Linked DNA regions of Homo sapiens: region 2 is reported to be linked to region 1. Evidence: microRNA targets listed by miRTarBase, many of them from high-throughput screens and not tested one by one. Region 1 holds a microRNA gene; the other region holds the end of a gene's coding sequence.
The links. The annotated mature microRNA hsa-miR-3116 reads UGCCUGGAACAUAGUAGGGACU and lies in region 1 at 3,910-3,931, opposite strand. An mRNA with a match to its seed (bases 2 to 7 or 8) in the 3' UTR can be bound and repressed. Matches are read on the target gene's strand: a 7mer-m8 pairs with bases 2 to 8, a 7mer-A1 pairs with bases 2 to 7 and ends in A, and an 8mer does both.

Region 2: miRTarBase lists OLR1 as a target of hsa-miR-3116. The part of its 3' UTR that is shown has no 7-base or 8-base seed match.

The regions. Positions count from the first base shown.
Region 1 is chr1:62,075,637-62,082,760 of GRCh38, reverse strand. It overlaps MIR3116-1 (microRNA 3116-1), which reads right to left and starts at 3,975; the gene lies at 3,902-3,975. PATJ (PATJ crumbs cell polarity complex component) reads right to left here. Exons shown (of 44, transcript NM_001350145.3): 32 at 3,194-3,311. MIR3116-2 (microRNA 3116-2) reads left to right here and starts at 3,905; the gene lies at 3,905-3,972.
Region 2 is chr12:10,153,165-10,160,288 of GRCh38, reverse strand. OLR1 (oxidized low density lipoprotein receptor 1) reads left to right here. Exons shown (of 6, transcript NM_002543.4): 6 at 268-1,988. The coding sequence ends at 409. Among named protein-coding and RNA genes, the nearest start is that of OLR1, 15 kb to the left of the region's middle. RefSeq lists enhancers at 6,356-6,545, 6,556-6,645, 6,500-7,003.

The DNA of each region.
Region 1 (7,124 bases):
GTGAAAATGATATGAGTCTAAATCTCAGTGTCTATAAATAAAGTCGTATTGGAACACAAACCCACTAATTCATTTATGCCTAGCCTATGGCTGCTAGCATACTACAATGGCAGGGGTGAGTAACTGCAATAGCGGTTGTGTGGCCCATAAGCCTAAAATATTTACAATCTACTTCTTTATAGAAAAAGCTTGTCAATCTCTGGTATAAAACAAAAAGAAACAGGCTCTAGGTAAGCCTGTGGGGGTTCTGCTCTAACTAAGTGATAATCATGGTCTTTGAGATGAAAAGGCACAGGTTTTGGAGTGGCACAGAGCCACAGTTGAGTTCCTAAGCAGGAATTTAACAGGAGGGTGAAAGTGGAGCTCACTTCTCATCAGAAAAATGCATGTAACCACTATTAAAGAGGCTGTTAGAGAAACTAAATGAACAGTGTGTGTGAGGTGCCCGGCCCAGAGTCTGGCACATTGTGGGTATTCACATATCTTGTTCCCATCCATATGGAATTTATTAATCTAAAGGCCTCCTGGTTAACAGCAAGAAATTCAGTGATACAACCATAAAAAGTGCCATATTTAGAAGTAGCCTATGGCCAGCCTATGGTGGCTAGCACACTACAATGGCAGGGGTGAGAAACTACAACAGAGGCTGTGTGGACCACAGCCTAAAATATTTACTATCGACTTCTTTATAGAAAAATCTTGCCAATAAGACAAAAAGAAAGGCTCTAGGTAAGATACAGGCAAGGCAGAATATTAAATTGTAAACCAAATTTGTCTTTAAATCTTTTTGCAGCATATGTATTTTATACCACATTTCCCATTAATTTACAATAAAAATGACGTACGATAGTGGCACACTTTCATGGGTGCTTTAAAAAGTTTCTATTGCTTTTAGGTCGGGTGCGGTGGCTCACGCCTGTAACCTCAGCACTTTGGGAGGCTGAGGTGGGCGGATCACCTGAGTTCAGGAGTTTGATACCAGCCTGACCAACATGGTGAAACCCTGTCTCTACTAAAAATACAAAATTAGCCAGGCATGGTGGCACATGCCTGTAATCCCAACTACTAGGAAGGCTAAGGCAGGAGAATCACTTGAACCCAGGAGGCAGAGGTTGCAGTGAGCCGAGATCACACCATTGCACTCCAGCCTGGGCAACAAGAGCAAAACTCCATCTCAAATAAATAAATAGATAAGTAAATAAAAAGTTTATACTGCCTTTGTAAATGACTAGCGTAGTCTCCTGAGTGAGAAGAGAGAAAAAAACCTGGTGAGACATCCTGGAGATGGCATTTCTTTTCCCTCCTCCACGTTTGCCTCACCCTAGCCAGTCCTGAGTCAATCTTTTTATTTACTTCTCTCATGGAATCCAGCCCCAAACCCAGCTCATACCAAGTCCTCAATAAATGCTTGGTAAGTAGATGAGTAAATGAATAAAATTTCTATAGATTCAACTGTAGGATGATGAACTTCATTTATTTATTTATTTGTTTATTTATTATTTAACCATGAGAATGAAAACCAGGAAGGATGCTGAATTTCTGTCATCTAAGTATAAATATGTGATATATATTACCAAAACTCAACTTGTCTACCTCCATAGTCAGCATGCATTGTTGGTAAAGTGCCAAGTATACATATTTTAATAGGGCATTACAGGCCAGACTGTCTCTGTTGTGACTACTTAACTCCATCATTATAGTGTGAAAAAAGCCACTGACAATACAGAAACAAATGAGTGTCTATAAACCTGTATTTGTGGACACTGAAATATGAATTTCATAGAATATTTTAATAAAATTTTCTTAGGTGTTTTTTCAACCTTTAAAAAGTGAACACCTTTTTTAGCTTGTAGACCATACACAACTAGCTGGTAGGCCAGATTTGACCCATGCGCCATAGTTTTCTGACCACATGCATCAAATGTTTTAGTACATCTACAATGCTTTAAAATAGTACCTGCTTGATGAACTTTATGAAGTTAATATTTATGAAAAAATATATAAAAGGCAAATACCACAAAGATTTCAGAACTGCTAAATTAATGCAGGGTTATGCTTTGCCATTGGTGAGTACTGTCTTTTAAAGAGTTTTATTTTTTACTGATGTATACTGCACAAAAGCAAAGTAGGGCTGGGCACAGTGGCTCACGTCTGTAATCCCAGCACTTTTGGAGGCCGAGGCAGGCAGATCACTTGAGGTCAAGAGTTTGAGACCAGCCTGGCCAACATGGTGAAACCCCATCTCTACTAAAAATGTAAAAATTAGCCGGGCATGGTGGTGAGCACCTGTAATCCCAGCTACTCAGGAGGCCGAGGCAGGAGAATCACTTGAACCCAGGAGGCAGAGGTTGCAGTGAGCTGAGATCAGCCCCCTGCCCTCCAGCCTGGGTGACAGAATGAGACTCTGTCTCAAAAAAAAAGAAAAAAAAGCAAGTAGAAATACCTATTATTCTTTATAAAGTTCTATTTTCAACCCCCAGTCAGCATAATTCAAGCCAGGAATTTAAAGACAGAATGTGCATGCCAATTTCTTTAAGCATTGAAAATCAACATTCTTCAAACAGCTTAAAGCAACATTTGCAGGGCTAAAAATTGGGTTTGATAGGATTTTTAAAGAGATATTACTCAAGACCTAAATATAATCTTTTGTAGAGATTAGAGAAGAATAATACAGAAGCCTCAGATTCAAATAACATTTACTGAGGTCCTTTTCTTTTCCTTTTTTTTTTTTTTGAGACAGAGTCTCACTCTGTCACCCAGGCTGGAGTGCAGTGGTGCAATCTCAGCTTACTGCAACTTCTGCCTCCTGGGTTCAGGCGATTCTCCTGCCTCAGCCTCCCGAGTAGCTGGGATTACAGGCATGCGCCACCATGCCTGGCTAATTTTTCGTATTTTTAGTAGAGACAGGGTTTCACCATGTTGGCCAGGCTGGTCTTGAACTCCTGACCTACTGAGGTCCTGTTCTGTTCTAGTGCTCTTATATTCAAAAAGCAACAGGCAATGGCGATGGCAGAGAGGAGGAAAAATGATGTAGGAAATGAAGTGACCTATCCAAGCCCCAAAGCTAAGGAAGCGGAGGAAGTATCCAGAGTCAGACTTCTGCCTCCTGGTCCAGTTCTCGTTTTAGGACATTATGATCCCTTGCCTTCTCTAAGGCTTAATGAGCCAGATCTGCTGAGAGAAAGAATCATACCATAGCCTGTGAAGTCTGCATCTGTTGAATGGTATGATGAAGCTGGTGCTAATGGTATCTCTTGTGAACTGAAGGAGACTTTTGTTGGATATTTTTGCTGTTTCATCTGGCTGACAGCCTACAAAAGAAAGGAAAATTAGATGAATATCAAAAAGGAGAAAGGTAACAAGAAAATACTTTAAAACTGGTGTATTGTTACCAAAACAATGGTGCAGTCCAATGATGTCTTTTGAGAATATAAGGTTGGAGGGTGGCAAGAAGTTAGGATGATTTATGCCTCGTTCCTCATTCTTCCCTATTTAACTTTACAACTAAAATGCTTTGATGAAGGGCAGATCAAGGAAGGGAGGAAAGATAAAAGCTGAAGATACTCTGTCAGTGTGATCTGTACATGAAGCTGGGGGTGGGAGGCAAAACAAAAATTATCTTGCAATTTCTACTCATTCTGATGAAATCAGCAAGAAGCCCCTTTATCTATGGACTTTGAAGTGACTTATCTGTGTTGTGCACATTGAAAAACAATCTACGCTGGGGATGTTTAGAGCATCAACACTGTCCATTTCTTCTGGACACACTAGAGTCAAAGATGCATTTGGTAGGTTAATTAAGCAAAATGAGGGGCAGACAAAGAAAACCAACACCTACTGAAAGCCTACTAAATGCCAGCTACATCAGTGACATTTAATTCACATAAAGGAAGCATAGCTCCTTTATTGAGTCCCTACTATGTTCCAGGCACCTACGATACCCAGTGCCTGGAACATAGTAGGGACTCAATAAAGTGCTTGATGAATGAATGAACAAGAAAGAAAGAACAAAGAAAAGCAAAACTGAAGACATGAGTAACTCAGGGTAGAAAGTGAACTTGCAATTCAGTGAAGGTACAGGGACCTCTACTGTGTGAGTTTGGGAAAAATTAACTTGTAATTCTGGATTTTTGCTGACAGTACCTCCAATGAATATTAATATTAAAAAACTAAGGGGCCAGGCATGGTGGCTCACGCCTGTAAACCCAGCACTTTGGGAGGCTGAGATGGGCAGATCACCTGACATCAGGAGTTCGAGACCAGCCTGGCTAACATGGTGAAACCCCATCTCTACTGAAAAAAATACAAAAATTAGCCAGGCGTGGTGATGCATGCCTGTAATCCCAGCTACTTGGGAGGCTGAGGCAGGAGAATTGCTTGAACCCAGGAGGCAGAGGTTGCAGTGAGCTGAGACCGTGCCATTGCACTCCAGCCTGGGCAACAAGAATGAAACTCCGTCTCCAAAAATAAATACATACATACATACATACACTAAGAAAAACCAAAAGGACTCCTTGCTTATTTAACAGGCAGTTAAGAAATATAGGTAGTAACCTGACCTGCCTTCTGGATCTGCAGTTGGCCAGGGAACCCATCCCCAGCTGGAAGAGTCTGGTAGTGAAGCACCAGGTTGCCCCTGGAGTCTAGAAATAGGACCAAGGTAACTGCTCCAGAACTGTAACACCTCAAGATTCTGTCAGTGGAAAGCTGTGCCTCAATACAGGGCATTGTGCAGTGTGCAGTAACAACAAAACAATACCATCCATTGTGCATATGCACTGTGCTTTCTAGTTTTCAAAACACTTTTACATCCATAAATTCATTCAATCACATGAACAACCCCGACAGTTAAATATTACTTTTTTTCTTTTTGCAGAAAACCAAGCATAAATGTCAAGTGACATATTTGAAATCACACTGCTAATTAGAGAAAGAGGTAGAACCGGAAGTCAATAGTTGAAGAATGCTACAAGCTTAAAGTGTTTATCAAACAGCTGATAGGCAATGATTCTATGGAGTTTTTTTGTTTTTTCCTGCAGTTTTTCTATCACCATCTTCTTTTTTTTTTTTTTTTGGACAGGGTCTCACTCTGTCACCTAGGCTGTAATAGTTGTGTGATCTCGGCTCACTGAAGCCTTGATGTCCTGGGCTCAGGTGATTCTCCCACCTCAGCCTCCTGAATACCTGGGATTACAGGCGCACACCACCACGCCTGGCTAATTTTTTGTATTTTTAGTAAAGATGGAGTTTTGCTATGTTGCCCAGGCTGGTCTCGAACTCCTGGACTCAAGCAATCCACCCACCTCAGCATCTCAGAGTGCTGGGATTACAGGCATGAGCCACTGTGCCCCGCCACTATCAGCATCATTTAATATTGACTAAAAAGAGACTTTTTCAATTACATATTTATCAGTGATTTTTAAAGGAAGAAAGTAGAAAAGGACAAATAAGGGGTTACTATAAGAAAACAACATTGAGAGGACTTAGATATCCAATTATTCTAAGGACCACATTTACTAGCCTCATTGAAGGTAGGTGTGCCAACAGGCTAAGTCCTGGTCAATGGGATGTAAACAGAAGTGAATGTACAATTTTTAGGTCATTCTCCTAAGGAGAAAGATCCTGTCTTTCCCTTCTCACTGCTTGGAATACAGATGTGTTGGTAATAACTGAAGCAGCCCTCTTAAACTAAAGAATGGATGCCACCATTTGAGGGTGGTAGAGTAATCAAATAAGAATGGTATAGTAATCAGATAAGAGGTGCTTGGGTCTCTGACACTTTGGAGACACCATATCATTCCCCAACTGACCACACACAGCCACACACAGACTCTTATGCTAAAGAGAACTTCTTGCAGCAATTGAGCCTGTGTCTTAACTCACACAGTACTTACCTCCAACTTACATTTTATATCACCTCAAGAAAGAACATGGATTCCCAACAAAGCTGGGTGCAAGCCGCAGAGTTCTTTTATGAAAAATCACGCGACTTTTAAAATAAGAAAGCACTAAAGAGAGCAATCTAGATTACTAAATTACGACTTTTCTATAGCATGAGATGATTGTTGCTTTTCTTTATATCCCAGTTTCATGTAGCATCTGGTGCATAATAGGTCCCTGATAGATACTGGTGGAATTGAATTCAATTTAACAATAAGGAAGCAGTCCATAGAATCCAAGTGAAATGTCCAAACATATATACATAGAGGCTGGCCTCCAGTTGTCGGTATGTGTGGTGATGGATGAAGGAGTGTTCCCATGACTCATTCATTGGCACAAAACCAAACTACTGTGTAAGAAAGATCAGAAAGAATGGATTTGCTGTTGTATGTTACTGTATTATAAGAACTGAGATGGACTTTATAGGTCATCCAACCTAACTAAACCTGTGGTTTTCAACCCTGTTTCATAATAGGAACACCTACGGAGCTTTTAAAAATTACAGATGCTAGGATCCCCATCGCAGGCAAAATAAATTAGCATCTAGGGGTGTGGGTCCCAGGCAGGTTTTTTTTGTTTTTTGTTTTTGTTTTTAATTGAGACTTATTGATTAAGACTTAATCTTCTTTTAAGAAGCCCTGGCTTAAGAATCCATGGTTTAACTTTAAACGATGTCTCAAAAACAAAACAAAACAAAACAAAACTTGCCTGGGATCCACATCCCTAGATGCCAGTTTATTTGGTCTGGGATGGGGGTCCTAGCATTCGTGATTTTTTTTAAAGCTCTCTAGGTGTTCCTATTATAAAACAGGGTTAAGAACCACTGGTTTAGTTGTAAAACACCCTTGTAGTTGTATCAAAATTGTACTTGTCAGTGTTTTTCTTTTCTTTTTTTTTTTTTTTGAGACGGAGTCTCGCTCTGTTGCCCAGGCTGGAGTGCAGTGGCGCGATCTCTGGTCACTGCAAGCTCTGCCTCTCGGGTTCACATCATTCTCCTGCCTCAGCCTCCCGAGTAGCTGGGACTACAGGCACCCACCACCACGCCTGGCTAATTTTTTGTATTTTTAGTAGAGACGGGGTTTCACCGTGTTAGTGAGAATGGTCTAGATCTCCTGACCTTGTGATCCACCCATCTCGGCCTCCCAAAGTGCTGGGATTACAGGCGTGAGCCACTGCGCCCGGCC
Region 2 (7,124 bases), not on the chromosome of region 1:
TGCTAGTGAGGTCACTGCCTGCATCCCACCAATGTCCTCTTCTTGCCAGAGAGAAGCTTGGGGGAATTTCTCAAAGTCTCCTTCCTTACCTCTTTCACAAAAAGATTTACTCATTAACCATTCAGACATTTTCTTGAGTTTTCCTTCCCACATTTATTACTGATTGGAGGCTTTAAGACAAAAAGTTTCAAAAGCTAAGTTTCTGAAACAAGGTGGCAGTAAACCTAAGTTTTTTTGTTGGTTTGTTTTGTTTTTTCCTACCTGCAGATTTAGAGTCCGAGGCGCTGTCTCCCAGACATACCCTTCAGGTACCTGTGCATATATACAACGAGGAGCTGTTTATGCGGAAAACTGCATTTTAGCTGCCTTCAGTATATGTCAGAAGAAGGCAAACCTAAGAGCACAGTGAATTTGAAGGCTCTGGAAGAAAAGAAAAAAGTCTTTGAGTTTTATTCTGGAATTTAAGCTATTCTTTGTCACTTGGGTGCCAAACATGAGAGCCCAGAAAACTGTCATTTAGCTGGCTGCAGAACTCCTTTGCAGAAACTGGGGTTCCAGGAGCCTGGCACCTTTATGTCAACATTTTTGATTCTAGCTACCTGTATTATTTCACCTAGCTTGTCCCAAGCTTCCCTGCCAGCCTGAAGTCCATTTTCCCCTTTTTATTTTAAAATTTGACTCCTCTTCAAGCTTGAAAACCCTCTGAACTCAGTCTTCTTTACCTCATTATCACCTTCCCCTCACACTCCTAAAATTGCATGAAAGACAGAACATGGAGAACTTGCTCAAGTGCAGGCAGAGAGCAAAAAGGGGAAATATGTCTGGGAAAAAGTGCACGTGAAGAAACAAAGAAGGACAGAGGCCATTCCGAAATCAAGAAACTCATGTTCTTAACTTTAAAAAAGGTATCAATCCTTGGTTTTTAAACTGTGGTCCATCTCCAGACTCTACCACTTACGGACAGACAGACAGACAGACACACACACACACACACACACACATTTTGGGACAAGTGGGGAGCCCAAGAAAGTAATTAGTAAGTGAGTGGTCTTTTCTGTAAGCTAATCCACAACCTGTTACCACTTCCTGAATCAGTTATTATTTCTTCATTTTTTTTTCTACCAGAGGACAGATTAATAGATTTAACCCTTCACAACAGTTCTTGTTAGAATCATGGGATGTGTGGCCCAGAGGTAAGAATAGAATTTCTTTCCCTAAAGAACATACCTTTTGTAGATGAACTCTTCTCAACTCTGTTTTGCTATGCTATAATTCCGAAACATACAAGACAAAAAAAATGAAGACACTCAATCTAGAACAAACTAAGCCAGGTATGCAAATATCGCTGAATAGAAACAGATGGAATTAGAAATATATCTTCTATTTTTAGGCTTCTATTTCCTTTCCACCCACTCTTCACAGGCTATTCTACTTTAAAGGAAGCCTTTTTATTTTGCTGCACACAATCTAGCAGGAATCTTTTTTTTTTTTTAAGAGCTGTGTCATCCTTATGTAGGCAAGAGATGTTTGCTTTTGTTAAAAGCTTTATTGAGATATAATTAACATAAAATAAACTGAACATATTTAAAGTGTACTATTTGATAAGTTTTCACACCTTGTGGAGAACATGCATACTACAATTAAGAGAGTGAACATATCCATCATCCCTCAAAGTGTCACAATGCTCCTCCTGATGACTCCTCCCCAGAAAACCACCAATCGGCTTTCATTTTGCATTTTGTAGTTTTATGTGAATGGAATCATATAGTATGTCTTTTTTTTTTGTCTGGCTTCTTTCACTTTGCATAATTATTTTGAGATTCATATGTCTCCATCTTGATGCTCGTATGAATTCATTCTTTTAAATGTTGAATATTCCCTTGTATGGATATACCACAATTCATTTACCCATTTACTTGTTGATGACATTTGGGTTGTTTTAGTTTTGGGATATTACAAATAAAGCTGCTGTGAACATTTGTGTACAAGTCTGTATGAACATAGGATTTCTTTTCTCTTGGTTAAATACTTAGGAGTATAACGTCTGGATCACACAGTAGGTGTATGATTAACTATTTAGGAAACTGACAAACTCTTTTCCAAAGTTGTACCATTTTTCATTCCTACCAGCAGTGTATGAGTGCTCCAGTTCCATCTCATCCATGCCAGAATTTCATATGGTTCGTCTTATAGTTTTAATGATTCTAGTAGATATCGAATGGTATATCCTCATAGTTTTAATCTGTGTATCCTACAAATTTCTGTTTGTTGGTTTGTTTTTGAGACAGAGTTTCGCTCTTGTTGCTCAGGCTGGAGTTCAGTGGCACAATCTCAGCTCACTGCAACCTCCGCCTCCTGGGTTCAAGCAATTCTCCTGCCTCAGCCTCCCAAGTAGCTGGGATTACCGGCGCCCGCTACCACTTCCAGCTAATTTTTGTATTTTTAGCAGAGACGGGGTTTCACCATGTCGGCCAGACTGTTCTCAGACTCCTGACCTCAGGTGATCCACCCACCTCAGCTTCTGAAAGTGCTGGGATTACAGGCGTGAGCCACCGCCCCAGGCAAATTTTTATAAGCTTATTTACCATCTGTATTAGGTAACTTTGATAAAGTAACTGTATAAATCTTTTGAGAATTTTTACTTGGTTTATTTTTCTTACTGTTGAGTTTGAGAACTTTATATATTTGGGATAAAAACCTTTTATCAGATATGCATCTTGAAATGTTTTTCTTGTCTTGTCTTTTTTTTTTTTTTTTTGAGAGGGAGTCTCACTCTGTTGCCCAGGCTGGAGTAGTGCAATCCCAGCTTACTGCAACTTCCGCCTCCCAGGTTCAAGTGATTCTCCTGCCTCAGCCTCCCAAGTAGCTGGGATTACAGGTGCCCACCACCATGCCTGGCTAAGTTTTTGTATTTTTAGTAGAGATGGGGTTTCACCATGTTGGCCAGGCTGGTTTTGAACTCCTGACCTCAAGTGATCTGCCTGCCTTGGCCTCCCGAAGTACTAGGATTACAGGTGTGAGCCACCGCCCAGCCTGTCTTTTCATTCTTTGAACAATATACTCATAAAGCAGAAGTTTTTTATTTTAATGAAGTCCATTTTTATTATTCTGCTGTGGTTTGTAAGAACTCATTGACTAACTCAAGGTCACAAAAATTTTCTCCTTTATTTTTTTCTAGACATTTTATAGCTTCAGGTTTTATACTGAGGTCTATGATTTATTTGGGATTAATTCGACAAATGTAAATTTGTCGAAAAGACTATTTTTCTTTACTAAATTGCTTTTGCACCTTTATCACCAATCAGTTGTCTGTATATTCATGGGATTATTTCTAAACTCTCTATTTTATTCCACTGATTGTTGTATTTTTGTATTTGCGTATTTATACACCACCACCACATTATTTTGAATACTGTAGTTTTATAATAAATCTTAAAATCATGCAGTGACAGTCCTTCAAATTTATTTTTCTTTTGCAAAGTTACATTGGCTGAGCTATGTCACTATATTTTCCATATTGATTTTTGAATTGGCTCACTAATTTCTACAAAAACTCTTTTGGAATTCTGATTGTGATTACATTGAATCTACAAATCGATTTGGGCAGAATTGAAACCTTAAAAATATTGATTTTTCTGACTCTTGAATAAAGTATGTCTCTGCATTTATTTAGGTATTTTAAAATTTCTCTGAGCAATGTTTTGCAGTTTTCTCTTACAGATATTTTTACATATTTTGTTAGCTTACCATATATACTTCATAGTTTCGACGCTACTGTACATGGGAATTATCATTGATAATTTTAATTTCCAACTGTTTATTGCTAGTATGGAGAAATATAATAGACTTTTAAATATTCACCTTATATTCTGAAACCTTGATAAACTTATTTGTTTCTTCTAGTAACTTTTTTTGTAGATGTCATCAGATTTTCTACACAAATAATCATTCTGTGTGCCAGCGGAAGCACTTCTATCTTTTCCTTTCCAATGCTTTTATTCTTTTCCTTGCCTGAACCTCCCGTTCAATGAGAAATAAAAGTAGTGAGAACAATATCCTTATTTTGAAATTGATCTTGAGAAGAGATCATTCAGTGTTGCACCACTAAGTATGGTGTAAACTGTAGATGTTTCATAGACGTCCTTAATCAGTTTTAGGAAGTTCCCTTTTGTTCCTTGCATTCTTAGAGGACTGATCAGGAATAGGTGTTAATTTTGTCTAATATTTTTCTACATCTATTGAGATGATTATATATACATTTTTATTTTAAAAATATCTAGTATTTTCTTTGTTTTTTTTTAGGTTAAAAATTTCTAGTCTTTTAACATGAATTACACTCATTAATTATATAAGGTTAAAACAATTTAGGATTGCATTATATTAATGGATTAGATCTGTTATATGTATTATATTATGGGTTATTTCTGTTAAAATTTGGCTTAGAATGTTTGCAACTATATTTATGGGTTTTTTGTTTCTGTTCATTTTGTTCTGGTTTTTTAGAGGTAGAGTCTTACTCTGTTGCCCAGGCTGGACTGCAGTGGCACGACCACAGGTCACTGAAGCTTTGACCTCCCAGGCTGAAGTGATCCTCCTGCCTCAGCCTCCAAAGTAGCTGGGACAACGGTGACCACAGGCATGCACCATCATCCCCAGCTAATTATTTTAATTTGAGAGAAAGAGACAGGCTCTTCTTATGTTGCCCTGGCTGGCCTTGAAGTCCCAGGTTCAAGTGATCCTCCTGCCTCGGCCTCTCAAAGTGTTGGGATTACAGGTGTGACCCACCATGCCTGGCCAGTACTTTTTTTTTTTTTTTTGAGGTGGAGTTTTGCTCTGTCGCCCAGGCTGGAGTGCAGTGGCGCGATCTTGGCTCACTGCAACCTCTGTCTCCCGGGTTCAAGCGATTCTCCTGCCTTGGCCTCCTGAGTAGCTGGGATTACAGGCACCCCCCACCATACTCAGCAAATTTTTGCATTTTTAGTAGAGATAGGGTTCCACCATGTTGGCCAGGGTGGTCTCGAACTCCTGACCTCAGGTGATCTGCCCGCCTAGGCCCCCAAAGTGCTGGGATTACAGGTGTGAGCCACCGTGCTTGGCCATGGCCAGTATTTTTAAACATAGTTTTCTTTTCTCTTTATGACTTTGCCTTATTTGAATATCAGATAAATATTTCTCAATGTCAATTTTTCTGGAAGATTTGGTTTAGAATTAGTACTATTTCTTCATTAAATGTTTGATACAATTTACCCTTGAAGTCATCTGGGCATAGGGTTTTCTTTGTAGTAAGGTTTTCAACTACAGATTCAGTTTCTTTTTTTTCTTTTTTTTGAGACGGAGACTTGCTTTGTCGCCCAGGCTGCAGTGCAGTGGCACCATCTCGGCTCACTGCGACCTCCGCCTCCCGGGTTCAAGCGATTTTCCTGCCTCAGCCCCCAAGTAGCTGGGATTACAGGCGCGAGCCACCATGTCCCTCTAATTTTTGTATTTTAGTAGGGGCGGGGTTTCACCATGCTGGCCAGGCTGGTCTCGAACTCCTGACCTTGTGATCCGCCCGCCTCAGCCTCCCAAAGTGCTGGGATTACAGGCGTGAGCCACCGCACCCGGCCAGATTCAGTTTTTTTTAGATGTTGAGCTGTTCAAAGGATTCCTTCTTCAATGAGCTTTGGTGGTTACTTTCAAGGAATTTATGAGCTTCATCTAAGTTGTTTAATTTATTGGCATACCATTTTTAAAAATTATTTGAATATCTGTAGAATCTTTAGCATTGCCACTTCCTTCCTGACAGTGTTAATTGTATCTTTTTTTTTTAAAACTAATCGGCTTAGCTAGAGATTTATCAATTTCATTTTTCTTCTCAAAAAAGCTATTTGGTCAACAGAGACAAGATGGCCAAATAGACGCAGACAGGAAGCACCACTCCCGCTGACAGAAAGGGAGACCGGGAACCCTTTCAGGTTCTGGAACACCAGTGCCAGTTCCTGGCCCTGAACAACCCTTGGCAAGGCAGCCCACTCTTGCTGTGGACCTCTAGGATTCCAGCCACAAGAGATCCTACACTCCCCATAAACATTCGAACTGGCATGGGGATATGCCCTACAAGCAGGCAGAGGCAGAACTCCAGCCTGCATAGAGCCCGGTTTTTGTTGTTGTTGTTGTTTGTTTGTTTGTTTTGCGTTGGGGGCAGTTCCAGTGGAACATGGCCATGCGCACCCATCCCCCAAGGCTCTCCGTCCTCTTCCGAATAACTCTAACCCCACTGACTGCCGCGCAAAGAGAACAGCAGGGTCGACTTTCCCTTCGGAGTGGGGCACTTCTGTTCCGCAGGACCTCCTGCCCTCCAGCCCCTCTCAAGTCCTCTGCCTGGCCGCTCTAGGAGCCTGTCAACGGTGCAGACTCCACTGCCCATCCTGGGTGCTTTGCAGGCCGACATGCCTGACTGAGTTCTTTCCCAGCCGCTTGGGAGCAGTTCCGAGGCCCCGTCGCAGCCCGTGCCGGAACCTGGGGTGCAGGATGGCGGATGTGCTGGCTGGGGCCAAAGCCCTGGGCTGCGGCGTGCAGCGCCGCAGTGCGGGACCCAGATTCATGGCCTGCGCTCCAGCGGGCAAGGAGTCCCGAGTCTCAGAAAACCGAGGGAGTGATATGCCCAGATTAGGGGCAGGCGCGGAAGGTCTGCCAGCCATGGGTGTCCGCCTGAGGGAGCTGCCCAGCCCGGACAGCCTAGCAAAGGAAATGCGGGAATGACGATAGTGACTGGAGAGGACTCTCCGAAGGCTTGAGAGCGGAGCTGGTGGGGTCAGCTCCCCGCGCTGGGCCACACCACAGGACGTTGTTGCGAGCTCGCTGAAACGTAAAAACCCGCAGCGCTGGCCGTTACTCTTATGCGCCATCTGCTGGATGATAGCCCAAATTACACCAAAAATATTCTGCCAATATATTAAATATTGGTCTGTGAAACTCAGGGCAAGAATCCAGCCACAAAGATCTTGTACAGAGCCTTGGCCCTCTGACAGCACTCATAAATGAAGCAAATGACTATATTCAACTTACACCACAGTTAAAGGAATACCAGCCCTCTCAGAAGAGAAAGAATTTTGCCAATTAAAAAGTAAGAGTGTCCCCTTACC